Linked DNA regions of Homo sapiens: region 2 is linked to region 1. Evidence: fine-mapped expression QTL. A gene starts in region 1. The other region holds a variant in brackets. All regions are shown on one strand. Distances are from middle to middle. Region 1 holds the start of HEPH (hephaestin). Region 2 overlaps VSIG4 (V-set and immunoglobulin domain containing 4).

The links. PIP is the estimated chance that this variant, and not a neighbour inherited with it, causes the effect.
Region 2: its variant is fine-mapped to the expression of HEPH in whole blood (TOPMed, PIP above 0.99).

Annotation. Positions count from the first base shown.
Region 1 is chrX:66,163,000-66,165,913 of GRCh38, reverse strand. HEPH (hephaestin) reads right to left here and starts at 1,667. Exons shown (of 21, transcript NM_001367233.3): 1 at 1,444-1,667.
Region 2 is chrX:66,032,305-66,035,218 of GRCh38, reverse strand. VSIG4 (V-set and immunoglobulin domain containing 4) reads left to right here. Exons shown (of 8, transcript NM_007268.3): 2 at 1,389-1,745; 3 at 2,470-2,751. Among named protein-coding and RNA genes, the nearest start is that of VSIG4, 6.3 kb to the left of the region's middle. RefSeq lists an enhancer at 1,495-2,694. The variant A/G (reference allele first, on the strand shown) is at 1,265.

The sequences.
Region 1 (2,914 bases):
TAGAGAAGAACCAGACTGATGAGGAAAAAGAACAGGAAGAAATAAAAGGAGAAATGAAATAAGTAAGTTGAGAAAGAATCCTGGAAAAAAGTAAAAAATACAAAATAAAAAGGAAGGCAGAAGGAATAGGCACTCAAAGGAAGGAAAAAAGAAAGAAAAATTCTAGGCTATTTGGATAGTTTAGTTAAGATATACTGAAACCTTGTGCCAACCTGGAGAGAAGATCAGCCAATATAAAGTTAAGCCTCCCTTACCTTTACCTTACCTTCCTGCCATCCCAGTGTCACCTGGGTCTGGTCCCTATTATTCATAACAATTTGCATTGCTGTGTTCCCTAGAATTTGCAAACTGTTCCTTTATTGCGACAATGCTCTTTTCTCTCCCTCCATCTCCCTTTCTCAGTTATACTACTTTGGGCTAGACAGGCTCATCCTAAACAAAGGATTACTCAACTGAATAAAGGAATGCTGAGCCATCTTTGGGGCCCTGTCTTCAATCTCTCAGCAGCCTTCCTAATAAACCCTCCATCAAAATTCACCTTTTGGTCCTCTGCTTTCTTAACTCTGTGATAGAAAACATACCGATTTGAAGTTAAAGACCTTGATTCAAATCCTATCTCTTGTCTGTGATAGCTATGTGACCTTTCAATAAATTATTTTAGCCTTAGTCATCTCATCCAAAAAATGGGATGATATTTTTTTCACAGGATTGTCTTGAGGCCCAAATAAAACCATGGATATTTGAGTCCCTAGCAAAAGGATTGCTTGTCATATAATAGATGCTGAGTAATGAAAAACTGAACGTGTTATAGATTCACACATGCATGAAACCTTTAGAAACCATCTTTTTCAATCACCCTCATTTGATGTATAAAAAACTGATACCAGAGAGGTGCAAGGATTTGCTCAAAGTCACGCAGCCAGTTGTTAAAAATAGCCAGAATTTGAACCAATGATTTCTAAAAGATTTTTGCTATGTAGAAACTAAGACTACTCAAATTCAGATGTTTAGCTTAGTTAAGCTATCATTTATTGGCTTACTCTGTGCCAATCTGGTCTCAAAATATGAAACCAAACATGGTTATTTTTAAGTAACTGAGTTCCCACTTACATAATCCTCAGATCCATCACCTCAATAAATTCCTCAACCTGTGAAACAGAAGATGAGCAAGCTATTTCGACAGGAAAATGAACTATTCTGTATGGCTCCAGGATTGGCCCTGAAACAGACAAGCCAGTGTAGTCCTGGCTATTTTGGCGAGAGGAACAAAAGGAGCCTATTGTCTCCTTTAACTTTCCTGCACATCAGCCAAACCTCCTCCAACTTTTTGGCCACTGACTTTTTCTCCTAGTGGCCAGGACTCCCTTAAACCCAGCTAAATAAACGTTTTTGCACAGGAAGGCAGGTGAGGTAGAGTTTGAAAAGAGAGAAAAGAAAGCTTACCTTTGCTAGAGAAAACTACTCCATATTCATGTCAGCGGCCCATTAATGCTGCACTGCAGACCCCAGCCTGAGTCCGCCAGCCATGTTCAGTCAGTATCTTGGTTACAGGGCCTTTCTCCTAAATTAAGTCCAGGATTCCAATTTGGCAGGGTTTACTGGGATGGGAGGATGAGGGAGGGGGAAGGGCTGGGTGCCCTCTTTTCCAGAAACAAAACTACTGGAATGTCCTGTTCCTCTGGGGCCTGGTTTGATACAAAACCCGGGATGGTTCTTTACCCATATCCGGGTGTTTTACAAATCCTGGTTAGGATCTCAGGAGGAATTACAAGGGGGTGGGTTGTACTTCTGTTATCAGGACTTGCTAATTGGTCTTTGCTGAGAGGAGAACACTGTCAGTGTGGCCAGCCAAAGCTCATGGGTAGATTTCAACAGCTCCATTTAAGAAATGAGGTAGAAATTGAAAGAGCCTCCATCTCACCACCTCTTCCCCTTCTTGCTCTGAAGCACAATTGTCAGCCCTGACTATTATTCTGAGGTCATGGCTGCTTAGTCATAAGTAAAAATAAAATTGGCAATAAAACAAAGGACTTTTTTTCTACATTCTAAGCCCTATGTTAACCATTTTACATGCATTCTCTTATTTAAGTCTCACAATTATCCTGTGAGATGAATACTCTAATTCTCTCTATTTTACAACTGAGGAAAATTCAGCTCTGAGAGGGAAGGTAACTTGTCCAAGGTCACACACTTAGGAAGTAAAAGAGAAGAGAGATTTGCTGGGTCTGTCTAAACTTTTAACCATGAAACCACCACACACAATGTGCTGCTTAGGGGAGAAACACAGTACTTTCAAGGGGGTAGAAGGGACTTCACAATTATTGAAAGCCTACTGGCCACCAGTCACTGGTGGATTTTTTTATATATACATTAACTTTGCCTCCGTCATTTCTAGCAGATTCTAGAGTGAAATTTTATATTAACTATATTTAACATTTTCCACCTGAGGAAACCAGATATAGCTAGAAGATAGCCTGGATTAACACAGGTCAACACCCTAAAAACTAAGACATGGAAGAATTGAAAATACTAAAAAGAAAAAAAAAACAAAATGTTCCCCCAACAATTCAGGGTAAAACTGGAGTCTGGATTTGTTTAAAGTCAAAGGTCATTCCCATTCCTGGTGGAAAGAGAGAAGAGTGAAAAGTCACTGTCCTGAGTCAAGTGACCAAGGTTCTCGCCCCACTTGCTCTAGGAGTAATCAGCTATGTGGATTTTGTGGATTTGGCCCACTCCCTTCTCTTCTCTGGGCCTCTTTCTATTTCTACAATGAGGGTCTTAAACTAGATATGGACCCTCCCAGCCCTGTAAATTTACACATCTAGAATTCCATGAAGAAAGTATAGTCTAGATATTAAACATAGAAGATAAAGAGGTTTCAAAGACACAAAGTATAGGGAAAGAATGAGTGGGG
Region 2 (2,914 bases), 130 kb after region 1:
CAACATGGACTTATGTTATTTATTCTTTTCTACTCAAGGGCTTTTTCTTGACTAAAATATGCTATTGATGTTCTAAGGGTCCCTGGTGAGGGCACAGGCTAGAGGCTTGATTTTATATCTCTATTAACAGAAGTCCTGATGCTGGACAGTATATTCTGGGAGTTAGAACGCATACACTCAACCCATCCAAAAGATGTCATCTTCCATCCGCTTGACTGAATACTGGGATTTCTAGGCTCAATAAAAGACTTTTATTCAGGAATACCTCATATCTTTGAAACCACCTCTCTTAGGAGAGACATGAATATATTGCCTAAATATACCCACCCCACACTCCTGGCCCCAGCTAAATAAAACAAAAAATCTTCTAAATAAGAGCTTATGGATGGAAAATTCTGATGGGAGGCAATGGCTGTTTCAACATCCCCACCTCCTTCCCCACCCCCACCCCCATCCCCAAGGGTTTCCTTCTCAAACACGCCAAGGAGCAATCTCCCATTGCTTCTATCACCACCCCTACTACAGCCAGCTTCAGGATTTCACTCAGAACCTTTTCCTCTCTAGACCAAAAATGGATGCAATCTTTTCCCCCTCAAGATGAAATTTTCCTATGTATCCTTGCTAAGAACTAAGAGAAACCAAAAGGAAAATAAACAAAAGAAATCAGAAAAAAAGTCAGGTTTACAAAGTGCAGGTTTTGAATTTAACAATAGCTAATGATTTTGTTAAACAGGAATGTGTATCCAGACTTCTTCCTCACACTTGGTTCCACCCTCAGTATTTCCTTTTGCCTGTCTTCCAGAGAACATCTTAGGGTTGGGACCCCACTCACTGAGGATTTCTAAGGGAACAAGAGAAGATAACAGGGCAGAGGGCCCTTTCTTGCTGATCTCAAAAGCCTCCACCTTTCTCCAGGTGCAAATTTACACAAAATGAAATAGTCCAGACCCAAATGCTTAGCATTTTTGCTTCCACATCTCTTTTGGAAAATGTGAAAAGAAAATTTTTTCATGGATTTGCAGAATGACAGATTTGATAGAATATCTAGAGCACCTACCACCCAAACTCTCCACATTATAGATGAAGTAAATGAATCTTCCACGGTAAGAAGGTGACTTACCTAGGATCACCTTCATAGCAAGACAGTAACATAAAAAGGACTTGAAACTCACAAGATCTAAACAATGTTAAAGGCTTTCATTCTGAAGACTGGTTCTGATTGATGAGAAGGCTGGCAAAGAGCAAAAGGGCACAGGTACACAAA[A/G]GTGTGATAGAAAGAAAGTTGAGTGGCATTTCTCAGAAACCTTTTGAGGTTTGTCACTGTCACCTTAGTTGCCAAGTAGGTATGCCATCTACGTTTGCTTCTTTCCTCTGTTCCGCCTCTTCAGGCCGTCCCATCCTGGAAGTGCCAGAGAGTGTAACAGGACCTTGGAAAGGGGATGTGAATCTTCCCTGCACCTATGACCCCCTGCAAGGCTACACCCAAGTCTTGGTGAAGTGGCTGGTACAACGTGGCTCAGACCCTGTCACCATCTTTCTACGTGACTCTTCTGGAGACCATATCCAGCAGGCAAAGTACCAGGGCCGCCTGCATGTGAGCCACAAGGTTCCAGGAGATGTATCCCTCCAATTGAGCACCCTGGAGATGGATGACCGGAGCCACTACACGTGTGAAGTCACCTGGCAGACTCCTGATGGCAACCAAGTCGTGAGAGATAAGATTACTGAGCTCCGTGTCCAGAAACGTGAGTCACTATGGGGGTAGGAAAGCACTGATAATCAATGAATCAATAGTGGATGTAATTCTAGAAAAGCCTGAAAAATCCAGAGGCCTTCGTTTATACAGAGGCTCTCCACAGGTATATGTGCTTATCAGAGGAAGTGGACAGGCAGAGGATTCTTAGGGTCAGCATTCCCATAGTTAAATTTAGGAAGTGCTGGGAAGGGTTCCTGACCTGCAAATCTCTATCCCTTCGAGTGTCCCAGAAATGCCAGTATCCATGGACTAGTTACCCTCCTTGGGCTCTGGGCTTTACAACTCAAAAATGAGTACATTTAATTTGTAGATAGATGCTGATAGAGAAGCTCTGGGGAAAGGGAGGCAGAGGTTAGCCAGGATAAGTTTGCTTGCTGGACAATTTTACAAAAGTCTGGCCCTGATAATCCACAACTGCAGGTAATCAAAAGCTCTACTTGAGCCCCAGAACAAACTACATTAATTTTAAAGGTCAGTTGATTTTTACTTCCAAGTATTCCAAAACCCCGGGTAATACCAAAAAGTACCTACCTTCAAAGGAAGCCATTTTATTTGTATTGCCCTTTCCTTCTTATTTCCTCCAAAGTCAGAAGCCCCCTTTAGTTCCAGTTGCAGATATATGCATGCCCTTACGCCCAACAAGAATGATTCAGCCTTTTGGTCCCATATCCTTATGACTGCCCAGAGTTTCCTGTCTTGTCTTTTCTTTGCAGTCTCTGTCTCCAAGCCCACAGTGACAACTGGCAGCGGTTATGGCTTCACGGTGCCCCAGGGAATGAGGATTAGCCTTCAATGCCAGGCTCGGGGTTCTCCTCCCATCAGTTATATTTGGTATAAGCAACAGACTAATAACCAGGAACCCATCAAAGTAGCAACCCTAAGTACCTTACTCTTCAAGCCTGCGGTGATAGCCGACTCAGGCTCCTATTTCTGCACTGCCAAGGGCCAGGTTGGCTCTGAGCAGCACAGCGACATTGTGAAGTTTGTGGTCAAAGGTGAGCGGCCCTCTTTCCTGGTGAGCATCTTAACACACAAGCTTGAAACAAAGATACCTCAAAAGGTGCCCTTATGCAAAAGAAGAATTGGGAGAGGAGGATCCCAAGCAGGCAATGGTTGTACAATCACAAAGAAAAAAAACTTGGACTGGGGACAACAGGG